Regions from separate parts of the Homo sapiens genome. Here region 1 is linked to region 2. Evidence: fine-mapped expression QTL. Tissue or cell type: whole blood. Region 2 holds a variant in brackets; the other region holds the start of a gene. All regions are shown on one strand. Distances are from middle to middle.

Region 1 (10,494 bases), 160 kb before region 2:
TCCAGGACATTAGGCTGAGCAATGACATTTTGTGTAAGACCTCTAAAGCACAGGCAACCAAGAAAGAATAGACAAATGGCATTGAACCAGGCTAAAAAGCTTCTGCACAGCAAAGGAAACAATCAACAATGATTTAAGGTCCTGTATGAGGGATTTGTTAAAGTATAATCAAAATGGAGGCAACAGTATATTCTTAGGTCAACCACTCATAGCCACATAACCAAAATTTAAGCTATCCTGATTTCTCTGAAATGCAATTTCTAATGATTAACAAAAGTTAAGCTTTCCTTTCTTGTTAGTATGATGAAATTGAACCAATTTGTTACAGATAAATAAGTTTATACAACTCTACTTGCCCAAAAAGGAATATGTTTTTAATAGCCAGTCACAGCAGAGGTCAATGCACTTCCTCATTGATGCTTTATAAGCTGCACTGTAACTCTCACGTCAAGTTTCTTACTATTTTTGATTTGAAGTCTTCTGGTTTGTGAACTATTCTTCTGTATGTATAATAAACCTTCATATTCCTTTTTTACTTGACCTGACTTTATTTTTACGGGGTCCTCCATGGCGTTTGGGTTTCTCACAGTGTGGCAGTCTCAGGATAATACTGTAGTACTTTTCACTAGGCAGGTGTCTTCTATGAGCAAGATCTCCAACAGAAAGGAAGTGGAAGCTCTTGTGGTCTGGAACAGAAAGCTCACACAATCTCTCTCTCTCTTTTTTTGTTTTGAGACAGTCTTGCTCTGTTGCCCTGGCTGGAGTGCAGTGGTGCGATGTTGGCTTGCCGCAAGCTCTGCCTCCTGGGTTCAAGCAATTCTCCTGACTTAGCTTCCCAAGTATCTGGGATTACAGGCATGCGCCACCATGCACAGCTAATTTTTTTTTTTTTTTTTTTTTTTTTTGCATTTTTAGTAGAGACGGGGTTTCACCATATTGGCCAGGCTGGTCTCGAGCTCCTGACCTTGTGATCTGCCTGCCTCAGCCTCCCAAAGTGCTGGAATTACAGGCGCGAGCCACCACGCCTGGCCAGCCCACACAGTATCTCTTCAGCAATATTCAGTAGGTTAGGGGAGTCAAAGAGCCCACCCAACTCAAGGGGAGAAAACAAAGGACCCTTATTCCCCCTTTATACGCTTCATGATGAGAGTATCAAAGTGCTTGTTGCAATATTTATTTCACCAAGGAGGAAAAGGTCAATTTGGACCAGAAAGGTCAGAAAAAGTTTCCCCCGTCTGGGTATCTCCAATTCTTCTATCCCTGGTTCACCTCAGAGTATTGCAGTTCTGAGAACCAGTGCATTCTGGATTCATTGTAGAACTTTGATTCTCTACTTGACTGTATGTCAGAATCACCAGAGAGCTTGAAAAATCCTGATACCTGGATCTTTTCCCGCAAAACTCTGGTTCATTTGGCTTGGGATTCAGTGTGGGCATTAAGGAGTTTCATCAGCTCTCCATGTAGCTTTAAATGTGATTTTAAGCTGGTTAAAAACCACAGCTTTAAAATGATATGGCCTAGACAGTGCACTGTTAGGTAAATACTTATTCCATAGGCATCAGGGTTAAGTTGATATGCAGAGAAGATCTCTAAAGAGAAAAAAAAAAAAAAAGGTAGGAAACAAATGAAAGTGGAATAAATGAAGGTGTAAATCAATAAGATGAATGGGGGAGGGGATGTCACTCTACGTATATGGTATAAGTTCTGCTCTTTTAGCTCCACGTAAGCTAAAATTGTGGAATAATGTACAAGACAAAAGTTATGAAGTTAGCATCGAATTTAAGCCAGAATTAAAAATTGTCAGGCACTCTCAGCTTGTTTTCTAGATTCGGTATTGATCTCTGCGAAATTCAGTTTTCTCTTTGCCAAAGGATATTGTGAGGTTTACTGGATATTTTTGACCTAGATGTATAGGCCTACATACTTGGACACAGGTTGTCTGTTAACCTAAGACTTTGAGTCAAATTTTAATAATAAGAATAGTTATAAATGTATAGCCCTATGAGTTAGCATTTTTTTAGTTCCAGCTGAAAAAAGAAAAAAGAATTGTCTAGAACATTTTTCTCTCTTCTGGGTATCCCCAGTACTTCTATCCCTGAGTTGCAATCCACTAATATTATTATTTATTTGATGCTCAATTTGTCCCAGATTTGTCCAGTGGGAACCCCTTTAAATGTCCTTAAAGGTAAAAACTGCCAGCATGTTCTACTGAGATATGGACTAACAATGTCAGACATATGTGGGTGCTTGAATAGTATTTGCTTCAAAAATATTTATTACTAGAAAGCTGCTGTGTTTGGGGTGAGAGGTTAGTAGGGAAGGGGGTTCATAAAGGGAATGCAAAAGCCACGTCCTCTGGAAGTTAAAGGATCATTTTAAATGATTCTACTGCAAACATTTTTCAAAAGATAAACATGACCCATTTCTCCAATTTGTGTCATGTAATAGTAATAATAATGATATTTAAATACTCCCACTGATATGTCCTTTACAAAGATATATTATATGTCTTATTTAATCAAAAAACCTTAAAAGAGTCCCTGTACCTAATTTTATTCCAGGACTCAAACTGTGTCAGCATGTCATTCAGTGCAAATCAGACATTTAGATGCATAGGCTATGCTGTCAGTAGTTCTGAACTTTCATAGACATTTCCAATTAGCTCGGAGAGACAACTGGATATTGTGTTTAAGCACTGTGTTTAGGAAAACAGGCACTGGATGGACCAATGCCAAATTTCCTGCTCTGCTGCTTAACTAAGTATGTGTAATTACTTGGGCAATTACTTAAGCAATTACTTGGGCAATTACTTAAGCCAATCCCCAATTTCTTCGTCTTGAGCCCAGAAGGTCAAGGCTGCAGTGAGCCGTGAATGTGCCTCTGCCCTCCAGCCTGAGCGACAGAGTGAGAATTCCCCAGGAGTGCAGAGGTTCTCAGAACTGCAATACTCTGAGATGAATTTTGAAAGGTGAATCAGGGATAGAAAAAGTTATATAGGGAAGGCAGTCAATAAGCTTGTTTTAAAGGATATGGAGCATTTGAAAAAGTGGAATGTACATAAGGCTGGAAATATCAAATATCTAAATATAGAACAGGAACAGTGATGAAAAGACTTTCAAAATGCTTAGCAAAATGAGAATTATATTTCTTTCTCAACTCTTTTGTTCCAACAGCAAAAGCAACAGTGGGGATCAGCATCAACTTGGGTAAGTAAGTTTTTCTGGTCATAAATAGGCTGATTCAACTGAAAAAAATGTTTCTTTAAGAAGGGTGAATTTGTGTCTAAGGATTTTATGAGACTAACTGGGAAAAGTCAGTCAGAGTTTAGTTTGAGGTGAGAAGTGCTTACTGTTGACACTCTACCTAATTATAGGGAAATGTGTGCAGTTAGTCCTGAGACCAGATGCAGGGTTGAAAGAAAGAGGTGTGATGTAGCAGCCATTGATTAGGCAATTTGGGTTTAGCAAGCCCAGTCAATGCCCTCAGAGGGTCAACAGTGTATAAGATTTAGTCCTTGAAGGCATCTTTTAAAGTTTCATTCAGAAGATTTTAATAATTTTGACCATAATTTTCTGAGAAGAGGCTTTTCTGAGATTTGTCATTCACAGATAAACAGTTGTCTAATTTGTGTGTGTGTGTGTGTACATGTGTGCATGCGTGCATTTGTGCATGTGTGCCTATCTAGCCTCTTTTGAACACAATGGTAGATTGGCACCTGGTAGATAATATTGTTGAATGAATTGTATTATTCATATTATCTCACTGCCAATTTGAAGAATCTACATTCTGTTTCCAAAGTTTTGTGCATATAATACTAAACCAGAAACAGACGTGTTTTAGTAATACGTACCAATTACAAATTAACCATTCCTGCCTGGAATAAACACAGGTTTTGTTAAATAGCTCAATTTTCAAAATTTGTCTCATGTTATTTCCAATCCTTTTTTTTTTAACGCCGATATATTTTGAATTTACGAATGTGAAAGCTGAACTTCAAAAAAATAAAGGGAGAGGAAACAAAGCTCGTGAAAAATTTTAAAAATATCTTTTAATGCGTTATAACATCCTGGAGAGAAATCAAATCAATGTGTTTCAATGTTACAATATAGATTTCTCCTCCCCTCCCGGATAAAGCACTAATTTATTTAATTTGGTTCAGAGCACTGAATATTCCAAGCTACAGCCTTGTGGGTAAGAGCATTATCTTAAAGAGTGTTCGGATTTAACAAAGGTCAATGTCTTGTGCAGTTTACATAGTATCTACTCTCAGTAGCTTTTGCTTCTTGAGCTCTAGGTGGCTCCTCAGAAGCTGTTAGGCTTAACAAACAAAAATAAAGTAAAATCAGACACGGTATGGGGCCTTGGGACTCTAAAACCTTCATCCGGAGAAAATCAGTTAAGCCTTCAGAGACTAGAAGAGAGAATGTGTGTGATTGGTAGGCAAAGCAAAGAAAGATTAACACAAGTTGTCTGGCAGCTGGATAAAACCTTACACCTGCGCAAAAATAAGCCTCCCTCGTAAGAAAGCCCAAAGATGTCCGGGGTCCGGGAGGAGAAAAGTGTTTCTCATCTGTCCCATCAAAGCAAATTAGTGAAACCTGCCTCAGGTGAAGTGCAAAGGCCAGTCTGTAGGCAGAGTTTCGACCTCTCCCCACGAGATTGGCTAGACATCACCTGCCCAAGCTCTCTCCCGACCTGCTAGAGCCGAGAGGGCGGAGGCCGGAGAGGCTGCAGCCGGGAAGTAGCACCGCCACCGCACATCCGGGAACGCCAGCAGCCGGCTGAGGGCTGCATAACTGATGGAGGGCCGGGCGCGGTAAGAGCGTCTCGGGGGAGTGGGGCAAGGCGGCCGGGCCCCTCCCATTCCGCCTTTTCTTCAGCGTCCTACCCGCGGCACTGGCTGCGAGCGCCGGGCCACCTGCGAGTGTGCGCAGGGACTCTGGACACCCGCGGCGGCGAGCTGAGGGAGCAGTCTCCACGAGGACCCAGGCGGACCCTCTGGCGCCATGCGCGCCCTCCCCGGCCTGCTGGAGGCCAGGGCGCGTACGCCCCGGCTGCTCCTCCTCCAGTGCCTTCTCGCTGCCGCGCGCCCAAGCTCGGCGGACGGCAGTGCCCCAGGTGTGATGGGTACAGGGTCCAGGGTAGGGAGGGCGGAGGGCGCGCGAGGCTCGGGTCCCCGCGGGCAGAGGGCATCGCCGGCGCGCCGGGCAAGGGTGGCGGGGAGAGGCGCGGGGATGCTGGTAAGGGCGGGTGGGAGAGTCGGCGGCGGCCTCCCATTAGCTACGTTTGTGTCACCTAAGCTGAACCCTGAAACTGCTGCGGCTCGCGTTCCTGCGCTCTTTGGGGCGAGTCTTGAACGAACAGCGCCCCGCGAGTCGGGCGCGTAGGTAACAGGGCAGAGTCTGGTTTTTCCTAGGAAGAAGGCAGTGGGGTGTGTGGGTGGTTGCAGGGACCAGCTAGCGACTTGGCTTGGGCAAATATGGCATGAATTTTGAAAGCCACATTTCCCCAAGGCCTACTCCCTTTTCTTGATTCGAGAGTAAGGCTCGAGTATCACCTCCTTCCCTCCTCTTGGCAGGTGGGTTGGCTTTGAGGATTTTTTTTTTTTTTTTTTTTTTTTTTTTGAGACGGAGTTTTACTCTTGTTGCCCAGGCTGGAGTGCAATGGCGTGATCTCGGCTCACCGCAACCTCCTCCTCCCGGGTTCAAGCGATTCTCCTCTGTCAGCCTCCAGAGTAGCTGGGATTACAGGCATGCGCCACCACGCCGGGCTAATTTTATATTTTTAGTAGAGACTGGGCTTCTCCACATTGGTCAGTCTGGTCTCGAACTCCCAACCTGAGGTGATCCGCCCGCTTCGGCCTCCCAAAGTGCTGGGATTACAGGCGTGAGCCACCTCACCTTGCCGAGGATGTTTTTTTAGAGCTGAGTAGGGGAAAAAACATCATAACCAACTAGCCAACCAAAGATCCACAACTTACAGGATAACGTGTGTGTATCTTCATTTTACACCGTGGTCTTTGAAAACAAAATGTGTGTGTGCATGTGTGTGTGTGTATGTGTGAGATTTTTGCTTGTTGTTTTATTGTTTAAGACACTTTGACAGAGGGATTACGTGCAAAACATTAACAAAGCCAACACGAAAGTTGCCATTCTACCTTCACCTGTTTATAATTACTTTTCATATTGAAAGGATTCCATCCAACCTATTGCAAGTTTCTGTGTCATAAATGTTACCAGCCAGTAAGGGTAATAAAAGACCACCTCTCAAGCTGGTAAATATTGGCCACCAGTAACTAAAATTGGGACATTATTCTGCAAAAAGTTTTCAAACTCTCATGGGAATTTATTTTCATGGGCTTGTAAGATGTGGAATTTTTGTAACACACCATAGAGAAGGAAGGATAATCAAAAGGTAAGACTATTAATTTTTATAAATGCCTTTTAAAACGTCTAGTTGTTAACAACTTGGACAGAACATCGTGGGTTCCTTCGCAGATTTCCTTGTGCCACATCTCTTTTCCATAATACCACTTATAAAGAATTGTCCAGGCCTGTAATCCCAGCACTTTTGGGCGCTGAGGTGGGAGGATGGCTGGAATCCAGGAGTTCAAGACCACCCCGGGCAACATAGCAAGGTCCCTTCTTTATTAAAAAAAAAAAAAAAAAAATTAAAAGTGCGGTTGTGGTGATGTACACCAGTAGTCCCAGGTGCTTGGGATGCCAAGGCAGAAAGATTGCTTCAGTCCAAAGTTTGAGGCTGCAGTGAGCTATGATGGTGATGGTGCCACTAAGCTCCAGCCTGGGTGACAGTGCAAAACTGTCTCAAAAAAAAAGAAAGAAAAAGAAACAGAATTGTCCAGGACATTTTTCCCCCTTCTGGGTATCTCCAATTCTTCTATCCCTGGTTCACCTCAGAGTATTGCAGTTCTGAGAACCAGTGCATTCTGGATTCATTGTAGAACTTTGATTCTCTACTTGACTGTATGTCAGAATCACCAGAGAGCTTGAAAAATCCTGATACCTGGATCTTTTCCCGCAAAACTCTGGTTCATTTGGCTTGGGATTCAGTGTGGGCATTAAGGAGTTTCATCAGCTCTCCATGTAGCTTTAAATGTGATTTTAAGCTGGTTAAAAACCACAGCTTTAAAATGATATGGCCTAGACAGTGCACTGTTAGGTAAATACTTATTCCATAGGCGTCAGGGTTAAGTTGATATGCAGAGAAGATCTCTAAAGGAAAAAAAAAAAAAAAGGTAGGAAACAAATGAAAGTGGAATAAATGAAGGTGTAAATCAATAAGATGAATGGGGGAGGGGATGTCACTCTATGTATATGGTATAAGTTCTGCTCTTTTAGCTCCACGTAAGCTAAAATTGTGGAATAATGTACAAGACAAAAGTTATGAAGTTAGCATCGAATTTAAGCCAGAATTAAAAATTGTCAGGCACTCTCAGCTTGTTTTCTAGATTCGGTATTGATCTCTGGGAAATTCATTTTTCTCTTTGCCAAAGGATATTGTGAGGTTTACTGGATATTTTTGACCTAGATGTATAGGCCTACATACTTAGACACAGGTTGTCTGTTAACCTAAGACTTTGAGTCAAATTTTAATAATAAGAATAGTTATAAATGTATAGCCCTATGAGTTAGCATTTTTTTAGTTCCAGCTGAAAAAAGAAAAAAGAATTGTCTAGAACATTTTTCTCCTTTCTGGGTATCCCTAATTCTTCTATCCCTGATTCACCTTTCAAAATTCATCTCAGAGTATTGCAGTTCTGAGAACCTCTGCACTCCTGGGGAATTCTCACTCTGTCGCTCAGGCTGGAGGGCAGAGGCACATTCACGGCTCACTGCAGCCTTGACCTTCTGGGCTCAAGATGAAGAAATTGGGGCTTGGCTTATGTAATTGCCCAAGTAATTGCTTAATTGCCCAAGTAATTACACATACTTAGTTAAGCAGCAGAGCAGGAAATTTGGCATTGGTCCATCCAGTGCCTGTTTTCCTAAACACAGTGCTTAAACACAATATCCAGTTGTCTCTCCGAGCTAATTGGAAATGTCTATGAAAGTTCAGAACTACTGACAGCATAGCCTATGCATCTAAATGTCTGATTTGCACTGAATGACATGCTGACACAGTTTGAGTCCTGGAATAAAATTAGGTACAGGGACTGTTTTAAGGTTTTTTGATTAAATAAGACATATAATATATCTTTGTAAAGGATATATCAGTGGGAGTATTTAAATATCATTATTATTACTATTACATGACACAAATTGGAGAAATGGGTCATGTTTATCTTTTGAAAAATGTTTGCAGTAGAATCATTTAAAATGATCCTTTTAACTTCCAGAGGACGTGGCTTTTGCATTCCCTTTATGAACCCCCTTCCCTACTAACCTCTCACCCCAAACACAGCAGCTTTCTAGTAATAAATATTTTTGAAGCAAATACTATTCAAGCACCCACATATGTCTGACATTGTTAGTCCATATCTCAGTAGAACATGCTGGCAGTTTTTACCTTTAAGGACATTTAAAGGGGTTCCCACTGGACAAATCTGGGACAAATTGAGCATCAAATAAATAATGATATTAGTGGATTGCAACTCATTTAATAATATGGGAATTCATGAGTACCCACTGATGTAAATTTAAAAAGGAGTCAATGAAAAGTTTGATGGGGTACAAAGTATTAAAGATTCAGAGTAACTCTTCAGAATGTGCTCATTAATATCAAGGGAAAAAGAGTAACTTTATGGTGGAGAAGCTTGGCAGACAGCACTTTGATCAAATGATCAAAGACCAAAATCTGTTTAAATGGAACAGATGAACCATAAGCCTACTTTTATTTATTTATTCATTCATTCATTCATTTAATTTTTGAGACAGGGTCTCACTCTGTCACTCAGGCTGGAGTACCGAGGCACACTCATGGCTCAGGGCAGCCTTGACCTTCTGGGCTCAAGAGATCCTCCCACTTCAGCCTCCCACATGGCTGGGACTACAGGCATATGCCACCACACCCGGCTAATTTTTGTATTTTTTGTAGAGATGGGGTTTCACTAGGTTGCCTAGGCTGGCCTTGAACTCCTAGGCTCAAGCGATCTTCCTGCCTCAGCCTCCCAAAGTGTTGGGATTATAGGCGAGAGCTACGGTGCCCAGCCTAAGCCTACTTTTAATAGTGATGTTTCTGATGCATGACCATTTTTACCCTAAATTTATCATCACAAAAAAATTATATGTTGAAAACATTTGTTAAGAATTAGGGCAACTGACTCTTCCTCATCTTCTGTCACCCTCGTTCCCTTCCCTCCTACCTCTCATCTTTCCCTCCATAGGTCCTATAGTTATTTGGTGGGGAAGAGCAAGGAGACATCCTCACTAAGTGGGTGGAGCCCAAGGGGACCAGATCAGGATATCTGAGGCTGACCCTGGTAAGGATGGCATCAGGCAGGAGGGCAGCCTGGTGTGGAGTATTAGGGCCTGAGCACAGTGAATGGTTGCTCCTGCAGCGGGCAGCTTGACACAGGATCCCAGAGTTGAGCAAGTTTAACAAGGCTTTTGTGCAGGAGCAGCAGATGGGTGATGTTTGATCCCAAACAAGATGTGGAGGAAAGCATGTAGGAGGGTCAGACCAGCGATGGAGGTTGGAGCCTGAGTGGGTAAGGAGACATCTCTGTGGGGACAGGTGTGGCAGTAGCAATGACAGTTTAGCAGTATACAGGGTGATGGATCAAATAATTAAATCTAGGAAAGATAATAGGATCTAGGTTTTTCACTAGAGAAGAATGAAATAAAGATAGAGAAAAAGTAGAATGAACCCTGTGGTGTTGGATTGCAGTTGGCAGTATCCATGGGAATCCATGACATTAAATCCCTATCTCTTTACTTAAGTCTATATAGGTATATAGCTTTAAACAAGTATATGTGTAAATATATGTATGATGAATACGTATCATGCATATCATATACATAAGTGTATATGATATACATTATAAGTTGTATGTGTATATGAATATGTGCACATGTATTCTTAGCAGTGATTTCCAGTAGTGATGAGTATACTTAGCACCCAGATCTTGGGTTCTAAATACCATTCTTTACTAATAGTAACCAAGGCTTCTTGGAGAAATGGCTGATTTCAGGGCTAGTGTGGGAAAGTAGCAGATAAGCCTAGAACATCTTGTGCCAGAAAGCAATGGAGTGCTCAAAGGATAATGAGTCATGTCAAAAAGATACAGGAGCCAATATGAAGGGGTTCCCACTGGACAAATCTGGGACAAAATTGAGCATCAAAATAAATAATAATATTAGTGGATTGTAACCCATTTAATAATATGGGGATTCATGAGTACCAACTGAAGCAAATTAAAAAATAAATCAATGAAAACTTTGATGGGGTACAAAGTACTAAAGATTCAAAGTAACTCTTCAGAATATGCTTACTAATATCAAGGGAAAAAGAGTAACTTTATAGTGGAGAAGCTTG
Region 2 (10,494 bases):
ATCTATAAATATGCAGCACTCTATCATATACAGATAGATATAGATATATATCTATAGATGTTTATAGATTGCCATAAAATACATCTATCTCTCTATACATACACATAATTTTTTATTGAAATCATAATAAATAAGCATCATGTATCATTACACTTTACCTAGAAATACTTCAATATTTCCTAAACATACTTTTGTCTACAAGCCACAATTTTACAATGATACCTAACAAAATTAATATAATTTCCTATCACCTAACTTCTAGTTCATAATTAAAATTTCCCCAATTGCTTCCCAAATAACTTTAGGCTTTTAAAAAATACCAGCTTATTACTAAATTTTTGATCAAATAAATGAATCTGGAAACTCAGTATTGGAACAGTTTTTTTTAAAGAAATATGGAATGCATATTTGATATTTGAAATTCTGTTTTCTAAAGTGTCACATTAAAGCTGATAGTTATGGAAATTGGCATGAAACATGTAAGATTTAGAATGTAATTGAAAAAACTTAATTAAGGCAAAGGAATATAGTTGGATTCGCATTATTGAAGCAATAGAAAAACTTGTGAAAGCAGACCCATTAAGACAGAATGGCATGAGTCAATCCTGGTAGGTATCTGCTGCTATTGTGAAGACATAAAGACAGTGGAAGGTTATTGCTTACACACACTATTTAGCTAAGCCATTCTTATTTAACGCTGTATCATAAAATTTTCAGGTTGTATATAAATTGTGGTAGCACATGCTAACTCTCAGGTAATTTTTTACCAATAGCTCACCTAAAATTGCTTACTACAGTTCTACATTCTAGATCATTGTCATGTCCCGATGACTGAAAGAAAAATTGTTAAAAATCCATGCATAAAGTGCTGTGTAGCTTTTAAGGGAAGCGCCATCCTTGTTCCCAGAATTTTCCATTCCAGCCTCTCTATAGCCTTTGTTATCATCAGCAGATGCTCTTTGTGATTCTTCCTTTGTTATTTTTCCTACTGCTCTGATTCAAGGTGGAATTTGCCATCACATGGTAACTATGCTAGAGGAAAGTACCTCATAAGCAAAATTTTCCTTGGACACCAAGATAGAATAAAGGAAAATTAAAACACTATAGTACCAAAGAACTGTAGAGAAACTGCATGATTTAAAGAATAAAAAACAGTTCAAAATGTGGAAGCATTGACCTTGGGTGATGACTGTAGAAAAATCACTTCACTCAGTTTCCTCATCTATGAAATATAAGTAAAACGGTAGTATCTCCCAGAATGATTACAAGGAAGAAATCAGATGAGGCCTCTATCTGAGAATTCTGCGATCTGTAAACAGCTTAAAATAGATATTTAAAAATTATCAACTGAATTCTAGGGACTTATAGTCTTTTTATATCTGATTTATTATAGTCCTGAGGTATGAAAAGGAGTCTAGAATGTTTCCCTTAAAAATATTTACATGAATCAAGCTAAACAGCATTAGCAATTTTATTTTGGAAACTTTTATAGAGTTGATGTCATTTTTTTACAGGTGTTTTTCCTGAATCGTGGGCCTTGGGTATTCTAAAGTATCAGAAAGAATATTTGTGTTATGTTTTGGCCGTCAGGAGTATTGTGCTCAAAGCAAATCTATCTGTTTCAAATCAAAGCACGTTCTTGAAGCTGTTGGGAGAGAGGGACTGTAGCACTGGTTTTATTTTTAGTCTGTTTGCCTAAATCTCTACTGAGAAGACCCTATAGGTAGTATTTCCTTGGAAACTTTTACAGAATGCAGGCTGTTTGTTCATTCCTATAATGGACTGGTTACTCACTGCTCTCTGCTAAGAACAGCATGGATTTCAGAGGGAAAACCTTTATGTACCATACTTCACCCTAAACCTGTATAAAACCCAATCTTACTGGTGCAACACACACAATAGTTTTTTGTAGGAAGACAGTTGAGATGAATGCCATGAGAGAATTCTAAGAAAAAGAGGACACAGACCTTGCCCTCAAGATGTTTACAGTTGGATAGGAAGGGTTAGATCAATAAACAAATGTAAAATATCAACTATTGTGAAGCGCTATATATAAAGAGAGGTTTAAACCAAGTCATTTCAAAGGGAAAATCTCATAATACCTATTTACCATGTTGAAAAATTATTTTCAGCTAGCTCTGATCCTCTCTTTACTGGTTTTTCTAATGATAAGTCTCCTGGATGGATGTGTTGTTCAGAGAAAACCAGATTTTTTTCCCTTCGGTAGACTCTCAAATCATTCATGCTAGCTTTGGCATAGGTGTAACAGTAGAGGCATAAGACTGAATTTAGAACAGGACTTAATTGTTGGGAGAGCAGTACCTTGGAGGGATGTAGAAATGAGCGTAGGTAACTATGTTTATTGAATGACACTTTATGCCAGGCACTGAGCTGCCTTGTCTGGGTAAGAGAATAAATAATTGCATGTTTGTGCAGTACTCTATTGCAGTATTTCATTTAGATATAACATGAAATTGACTGTGTTATTTAGATTTTAAACATGAGAAAAACAGAGATCACAGAGAAAAGAGGACCTGTCCAATATGTCCAGCTAAAAATTGCACAAATTATTTTTGAACCAGATTTCTTGGACTCCAGCATTTCTACTCTATTCTTCTTGCCAGGCAATTGGGTACTAGAGCAATAGAGTGAAAAGAGCAAAGGATCAGAACTCTCAGGGATTAGTGAAGGCTGCCTGTTAGGAGGTCCAGAGCTAATACTTGGAAAACACAATTAAGTAGACAAACAAAATCAATGGTACCTGGAATCAAGCTAGTGTACTTATAAACTATATTCTTGTATTTTTAATAGAGTAATTTTTGTGGTAGGTGGAACAGAAATCTCAATGTTTATATACATTGTCACAACAATAAACATTCAAAGGCTAAAATATGAAAAGCATTTAAGGCTGAGGTGTTTTATAAACTCAAGGCCATGAAAAATGCCTTCCCTAGGGTGATTAACTTGGCCTTACAGTAGACTAGAAGTCAGGATCCTTCATGTGAATATTGGATTTGCTATGGTCCTGTATACTTTCAGCCTTACTTTCCTCAGTGAAACGAGTAGGCTAACCTAGAACAGTGGTTTTTCAAGTTCATGTCATGACCCATTACTTGACCAAATGAAGTAGAAAATAGAGACGTGCATTTCTTTAAAAAACTTTCACTTTAGGCTGGGAGTGGTGGCTCACGCCTGTAATCCCAAGACTTTGGGAGGCCTAGGCTGGTGGATCACCTGAGGTCAGGAGTTCGTGACCAGCCTGGCCAACATGTTGAAACTCCGTCTCTACCAAAAATACAAAAATTAGCCAGACGTGGTACTGTATACCTGTAGTCCCAGCTACTCGGGAGGCTGAGGAGGGAGAATCGCTTGAATCTGGGAGGCAGAGGTTGCATCCAGCCGAGATTGCACCACTGCACTCCAGCCTGGGAGACAGAGTGAGAATCCATCTCAAAACAAAACAGAACAAAACAAAACAAAACAAAACAAAACAGAACAAACACACACACAAAAACTTTCACTTTACTGTTTAACTTGTATGGTTGACATGTGAACTGTATTGTTGACATATAAACTGTATTGTTGACATATAACTTGTATTGTTGACATGTAAACTGCATCTCTAACTAAGGGAAATGGGCAAATTTTTAAAAAAACTTTGCCTTATATCATCATTTAGATTGTTGCCAGCTCCAAAATTACCTTGTTCTGTCTTTTAAAAATCCAAGACTCCCTTTTCAGACCATACTTTTCTTCTGCCTTTTACACTGCTGTCTGCCTTGTTAACATGGCTTTGCCTGCGTTCCTAGCACCATCCTACTCTGCATTTGCTTCTAAATTACCCACTCTCTTGATTCCTTCTTAACTTTTCTTCCTCCCCTAATTTTGGAGCTTCCTATAAGCATAGACCCTTGTTATCAGTTGTCCTTCACTGAAGCACTACTCCCAAGAAAGTCTCACTCAAAAATCTGAACTATTAACTACTTTCCTCTCACCTAAACCATCAACATCCAACAACATTTCCTCCTAGATGTTGCAATGTCACCACAAGGTTGAATTTCTTGTTTATCACCTGAAATATGTTTCTCCTCTTTTACAGGTTCAATTTTAATATTATAATTTAGAGATGCTGAAATTTTTTCTTTTGATATGGAGAAGGGTCACCTGAGCCCAGGAAGGCTGTTGGTTTTGCAAATATAAGACAAATAGGCACCTGGCAGAAGAGTATAAGTGATCTTTTGTATTTAATGGCTTATTTTTTGGTACATGAAGGCTTAGCATGATTTTCAAAGTGTAGCTCCTGGAAGAGCAGTGTAAGCATTACTTGAGAATTTGTTAGTATTGCAAACTTTGAAACCCCTCCCAGACCTGTGGGATCAGAAACTAGCTGTTTTTTTTGTTTGTTTGTTTTGATTTTTTAAAATTTATTATTATTATACTCTAAGATTAAGGGTACTTGTGCACAATGTGCAGGTTAGTTACATATGTATACGTGTGCCATGCTGCTGCGCTGCACCCACTAATTCC[T/G]CATCTAGCATTAGGTATATATCCCAGTGCTATCCCACCCCCTCCCCCCACCCCACAACAGTCCCCAGAGTGTGATGTTCCCCTTCCTGTGTCCATGTGTTCTCATTGTTCAATTCCCACCTATGAGTGAGAATATGCGGTGTTTGGTTTTTTGTTCTTGCGATAGTTTACTGAGAATGATGATTTCCAATTTCATCCATGTCCCTACAAAGGACATGAACTCATCATTTTTTATGGCTGCATAGTATTCCATGGTGTATATGTGCCACATTTTCTTAATCCAGTCTATCACTGTTGGACATTTGGGTTGGTTCCAAGTCTTTGCTATTGTAAATAAAGCCACAATAAACATACGTGTGCATGTGTCTTTATACCAGCATGATTTATACTCCTTTGGGTATATACCCAGTAATGGGATGGCTGGGTCAAATGGTATTTCTAGTTCTAGATCCCTGAGGAATCACCACACTGACTTCCTCAATGGTTGAACTAGTTTACAGTCCCACCAACAGTGTAAAAGTGTTCCTATTTCTCCACATCCTTTCCAGCACCTGTTGTTTCCTGACTTTTTAATGATCGCCATTCTAACTGGTGTGAGATGGTATCTCATTGTGGTTTTGATTTGCATTTCTGTGATGGCCAGTGATGGTGAGCATTTTTTCATGTGTTTTTTGGCTGTGTAAATGTCTTCTTTTGAGAAGTGTCTGTTCATTTCCTTTGCCCACTTTTTGACAGGGTTGTTTGTTTTTTTCTTGTAAATTTGAGTTCATTGTAGATTCTGGATATTAGCCCTTTGTCAGATGAGTAGGTTGCAAAAATTTCTTCCCATTTTGTAGGTTGCCTGTTCACTCTGATGGTAGTTTCTTTTGCAGTGCAGAAGCTCTTTAGTTTAATTAGATCTCATTTGTCAATTTTGGCTTTTGTTGCCATTGCTTTTGGTGTTTTAGACATGAAGTCCTTGCCCATGCCTATGTCCTGAATGGTAATGCCTAGGTTTTCTTCTAGGGTTTTTATGGTTTTAGGTCTAACGTTTAAGTCTTTAATCCATCTTGAATTCATTTTTGTATAAGGTGTAAGAAAGGGATCCAGTTTCAGCTTTCTGCTTATGGCTAGCCAGTTTTCCCAGCACCATTTATTAAATAGGGAATCCTTTCCCCATTGCTTGTTTTTCTCAGGTTTGTCAAAGATCAGATAGTTGTAGATATACGGCGTTATTTCTGAGGTCTCTGTTCTGTTCCATTGATCTATATCTCTGTTTTGGTACCAGTACCATGCTGTTTTGGTACCAGTACCATGCTGTTTTGGTTACTGTAGCCTTGTAGTATAGTTTGAAGTCAGGTAGTGTGATGCCTCCAGCTTTGTTCTTTTGGCTTAGGATTGACTTGGCGATGCAGGCTCTTTTTTGGTTCCATATGAACTTTAAAGTAGTTTTTTCCAATTCTGTGAAGAAAGTCATTGGTAGCTTGATGGGGATGGCATTGAATCTGTAAATTATCTTGGGCAGTATGGCCATTTTCACAATATTGATTTTTCCTACCCATGAGCGTGGAATGTCCTTCCATTTGTTTGCATCCTCTTTTATTTCATTGAGCAGTGGTTTGTAGTTCTCCTTGAGGAGGTCCTTCATGTCCCTTGTAAGTTGGATCCCTAGGTATTTTGTTCCCTTTGAAGCAATTGTGATTGGAGTTCATTCATGATTTGGCTCTCTGTTTGTCTGTTGTTGGTGTATAAGAATGTTTGTGATTTTTGTACATTGATTTTTTATCCTGAGACTTTGCTGAAGTTGCCTATCAGCTTAAGGAGATTTTGGGCTGAGACAATGGGGTTTTCTAGATATACAATCATGGCGTCTGCAAACAGGGACAATTTGACTTCCTTTTTCCTAATTGAATACCCTTTATTTCCTTCTCCTGCCTAATTGCCCTGGCCAGAACTTCCAACACTATGTTGAATAGGAGTGGTGAGAGAGAGCATCCCTGTCTTGTGCCAGTTTTCAAAGGGAATGCTTCCAGTTTTTGCCCATTCAATATGAGATTGGCTGTGGGTTTGTCATAGACAGCTCTTATTATTTTGAAATAAGTCCCATCAATACCTAATTTATTGAGAGTTTTTAGCAAGAAGTGTTGTTGAATTTTGTCAAAGGCCTTTTCTGCATCTATTGAGATAATCATGTGGTTTTTGTCTTTGGTTCTGTTTATATGCTGGATTACATTTATTGATTTGCATATGTTGAACCAACCTTGCATCTCAGGGATGAAGCCCACTTGATCATGGTGGATAAGCTTTTTGATGTGCTGCTGGATTCAGTTTGCCAGTATTTTTTTGAGGATTTTGCATCAATGTTCATCAAGGATATTGGTCTAAAATTCTCTTTTTTGGTTGCGTCTCTGCCCGGCTTTGGTATGAGGATGATGCTGGCCTCATGAAATGAGTTAGGGAGGATTCCCTCTTTTTCTGTTGATTGGAATAGTTTCAGAAGGAATGGTACCAGTTCCTCCTTGTACCTCTGGTAGAATTCTGCTTTGAATCCGTCTGGTCCTGGACTCTTTGCTTGGTAAGCTATTGATTATTTCCATAATTTCAGATCCTGCTATTGGTCTATTCAGAGATTCAACTTCTTCCTTGTTTAGTCTTGGGAGAGTATATGTGTCCAGGAATTTATCCATTTCTTCTAGATTTTCTAGTTTATGTGCATAGAGGTGTTTGTAGTATTCTCTGACGGTAGTTTGTATTTCTGTGGGATCGGTGGTGATATCCCCTTTATCATTTTTTATTGCGTCTATTTGATTCTTCTCTCTTTTTTTCTTTATTAGTCTTGCTAGCGGTGTATCAATTTTGTTGATCCTTTCAAAAAACCGGCTCCTGGATTCATTAACTTTTTGAAGGGTTTTTTGTGTCTCTATTTCCTTTAGTTCTGCTCTGATTTTAGTTATTTCTGGCATTCTGCTAGCTTTTCAATGTGTTTGCTCTTGCTTTTCTAGTTCTTTTAACTGTGATGTTAAGGTGTCAGTTTTAGATCTTTCCTGCTTTCTCTTGTCGGCATTTAGTGCTATAAATTTCCCTCTACACACTGGTTTGAATGCATCCCAGAGATTCTGGTATGTTGTGTCTTTGTTCTCGTTGGTTTCAAAGAACTTCTTTATTTCTGCCTTCATTTTGTTATGTACCCAGTAGTCATTCAGGAGCACGTTGTTCAGTTTCCATGTAGTTGAGCGGTGTTGAGTGAGATTCTTAATCCTGAGTTCTAGTTTGATTGCACTGTGGTCTGAGAGACAGTTTGTTATAATTTCTGTTCTTTTACATTTGCTGAGGAGAGCTTTACTTCCAAGTATGTGGTCAATTTTGGAATAGGTGTGGTGTGGTGTTGAAAAAAATGTATATTCTGTTGATTTGGGGTGCAGAGTTCTGTAGATGTCTATTAGGTCCGCTTGGTGCAGAGCTGAGTTCAATTCCTGGGTATCCTTGTTGACTTTCTGTCTCGTTGATCTGTCTAATGTTGACAGTGGGGTGTTAAAGTCTCCCATTATTAATGTGTGGGAGTCTAAGTCTCTTTGTAGGTCACTCAGGACTTGCTTTATGAATCTGGGTGCTCCTGTATTGGGTGCATATATATTTAGGATAGTTAGCTCTTCTTGTTGAATTGTTCCCTTTACCATTAAGTAATGGCCTTCTTTGTCTCTTTTGATCTTTGTTGGTTTAAAGTCTGTTTTATCAGAGACTAGGATTCAACCTCTGCCGTTTTTGTTTTCCATTTGCTTGTTAGACCTTCCTCCATCCTTTTATTTTGAGCCTATGTGTGTCTCTGCACATGAGATGGGTTTCCTGAATACAGCAGACTGATGGGTCTTGACCCCATATCCAATTTGCCAGCCTGTGTCTTTTAATTATAGCATTTAGTGCATTTACATTTAAAGTTAATATTTTTGTGTTTGAATTTGATCCTGTTATTATGATGTTAGCTGGTTATTTTGCTCGTTGGTTGATGCAGTTTCTTCCTAGTCTCAATGGTCTTTACATTTTGGCATAATTTTCCAGCAGCTGGTACCAGTTTTTCCTTTCCATGTTTAGCACTTCCTTCAGGAGCTCTTTTAGGGCAGGCCTGATGGTGACAAAATCTCTCAGCATTTGCTTGTCTGTAAAGTATTTTGTTTCTCCTTCACTTATGAAGCTTAGTTTGGCTGGATATGAAATTGTGGGTTGAAAATTCTTTTTTTTAAGAATGTTGAATATTGGCCCCCACTCTCTTCTGGCTTGTAGAGTTTCTGCCAAGAGATCCGCTGTTAGTCTGATGGGCTTCCCTTTGAGGGTAAGCCAACCTTTCTCTCTGGCTGCCCTTAACATTTTTTCCTTCACTTCAACTTTGGTGAATCTGACAATTTTGTGTCTTGCAATTGCTCTTCTCGAGTAGTATCTTTGTGGCATTCTCTGTATTTCCTGAATCTGAACGTTGGCCTGCCTTACTAGATTGGGGAGGTTCTCCTGGATAATATCAGGCAGAGTGTTTTCCAACTTGCTTCCATTCTCCCGTCAGTTTCAGGTACACCAATCAGACGTAGATTTGGTCTTTTCACATAGTCCCATATTTCTTGGAGTCTTTGTTCGTTTCTTTCTATTCTTTCTTCTCTAAACTTCCCTTCTCACTTTATTTCCTTCATTTCATCTTCCATCGCTGATACCCTTTCTTCCAGTTGATCATATTGGCTCCTGAGGCTTCTGCATTCTTCACGTAGTTCTCGAGACTTTGTTTTCAGCTCCATCAGCTCCTTTAAGAACTTCTCTCTATTGGTTATTGTAGTTATACATTCTTCTAAATTTTTTTCAAAGTTTTCAACTTCTTTGCCTTTGGTTTGAATGTCTTCCCATAGCTTGGAGTAATTTGATCATCTGAAGCCTTCTCTCAGCTCGTCAAAGTCATTCTCCGTCCAGCTTTGTTCCATTGCTGGTGAGGAACTGTGGTCCTTTGGAGGAGGAGAGGCGCTCTGCTTTTTAGAGTTTCCAGTTTTTCTGCTCTGTTTTTTCCCCATCTTTGTGGTTTTATCTACTTTTGGTCTTTGATGATGGTGATGTACAGATGGGTTTTGGTGTGGATGTCCTTTCTGTTTGTTAGTTTTCTTTCTAGCAGACAGGACCCTCAGCTGCAGCTCTGTTGGAGTGCCTGGCCGTGTGAGGTGTCAGTCTGCCCCTGCTGTGGGGTGCCTCCCAGTTATTCTGCTCGGGGGTCAGGCATCAGGGACCCACTTGAGGAGGCAGTCTGCCCGTTCTCAGATCTCCAGCTGCATGCTGGGAGAACCACTGCTCTCTTCAAAGCTGACAGAGAAGGACATTTCAGTCTGCAGAGGTTACTGCTGTCTTTTTGTTTGTCTGTGCCCTGCCCCCAGAGGTGGAGCCTACAGAGGCAGGCAGGCCTCCTTGAGCTGTGATGGGCTCCACCCAGTTTGAGCTTCCTGGCTGCTTTGTTTACCTAAGCAAGCCTGCGCAATGGCGGGCGCCCCTCCCCCAGCCTTGTTGCCGCCTTGCAGTTTGACCTCAGACTGCTGTGCTAGCAATCAGGGAGACTCCGTGGGCACAGGAGCCTCCGAGCCAGGTGCGGGATATAATCTCGTGGTGCACCGTTTTTTAAGCCCATTGGAAAAGCGCAGTATTCAGGTGGGAGTGACCTGATTTTCCAGGTGCTCTCACCCCTTTCTTTGACTAGGAAAAGGAACTCCCTGACCCATTGCGCTTCTCCAGTGAGGCAATGCCTCTCCCTGCTTCGGCTCGTGAATGGTGCGTGCACCCACTGACCTGAGCCCACTGTCTGGCACTCCCTAGTGAGATGAACCTGGTACCTCAGATGGAAATGCAGAAATCACCCATCTTCTGCGTCGCTTACGCTGGGAGCTGTAGACTGGAGCTGTTCCTATTCGGCCATCTTGGCTCCCACTACCTCCTAGCTGTTCTTTAATAAGTCCTCCAGATATTTCTAAT

What was found. PIP is the estimated chance that this variant, and not a neighbour inherited with it, causes the effect.
Region 1: EMB starts here. The variant in region 2 is fine-mapped to the expression of EMB in whole blood (TOPMed, PIP 0.93).

The regions. Positions count from the first base shown.
Region 1 is chr5:50,435,664-50,446,157 of GRCh38, reverse strand. EMB (embigin) reads left to right here and starts at 4,870. Exons shown (of 9, transcript NM_198449.3): 1 at 4,870-5,118. The coding sequence starts at 5,007. RefSeq lists silencers at 4,927-5,056, 5,137-5,326.
Region 2 is chr5:50,280,181-50,290,674 of GRCh38, reverse strand. No RefSeq gene overlaps it. Among named protein-coding and RNA genes, the nearest start is that of EMB, 160 kb to the left of the region's middle. The variant T/G (reference allele first, on the strand shown) is at 4,528.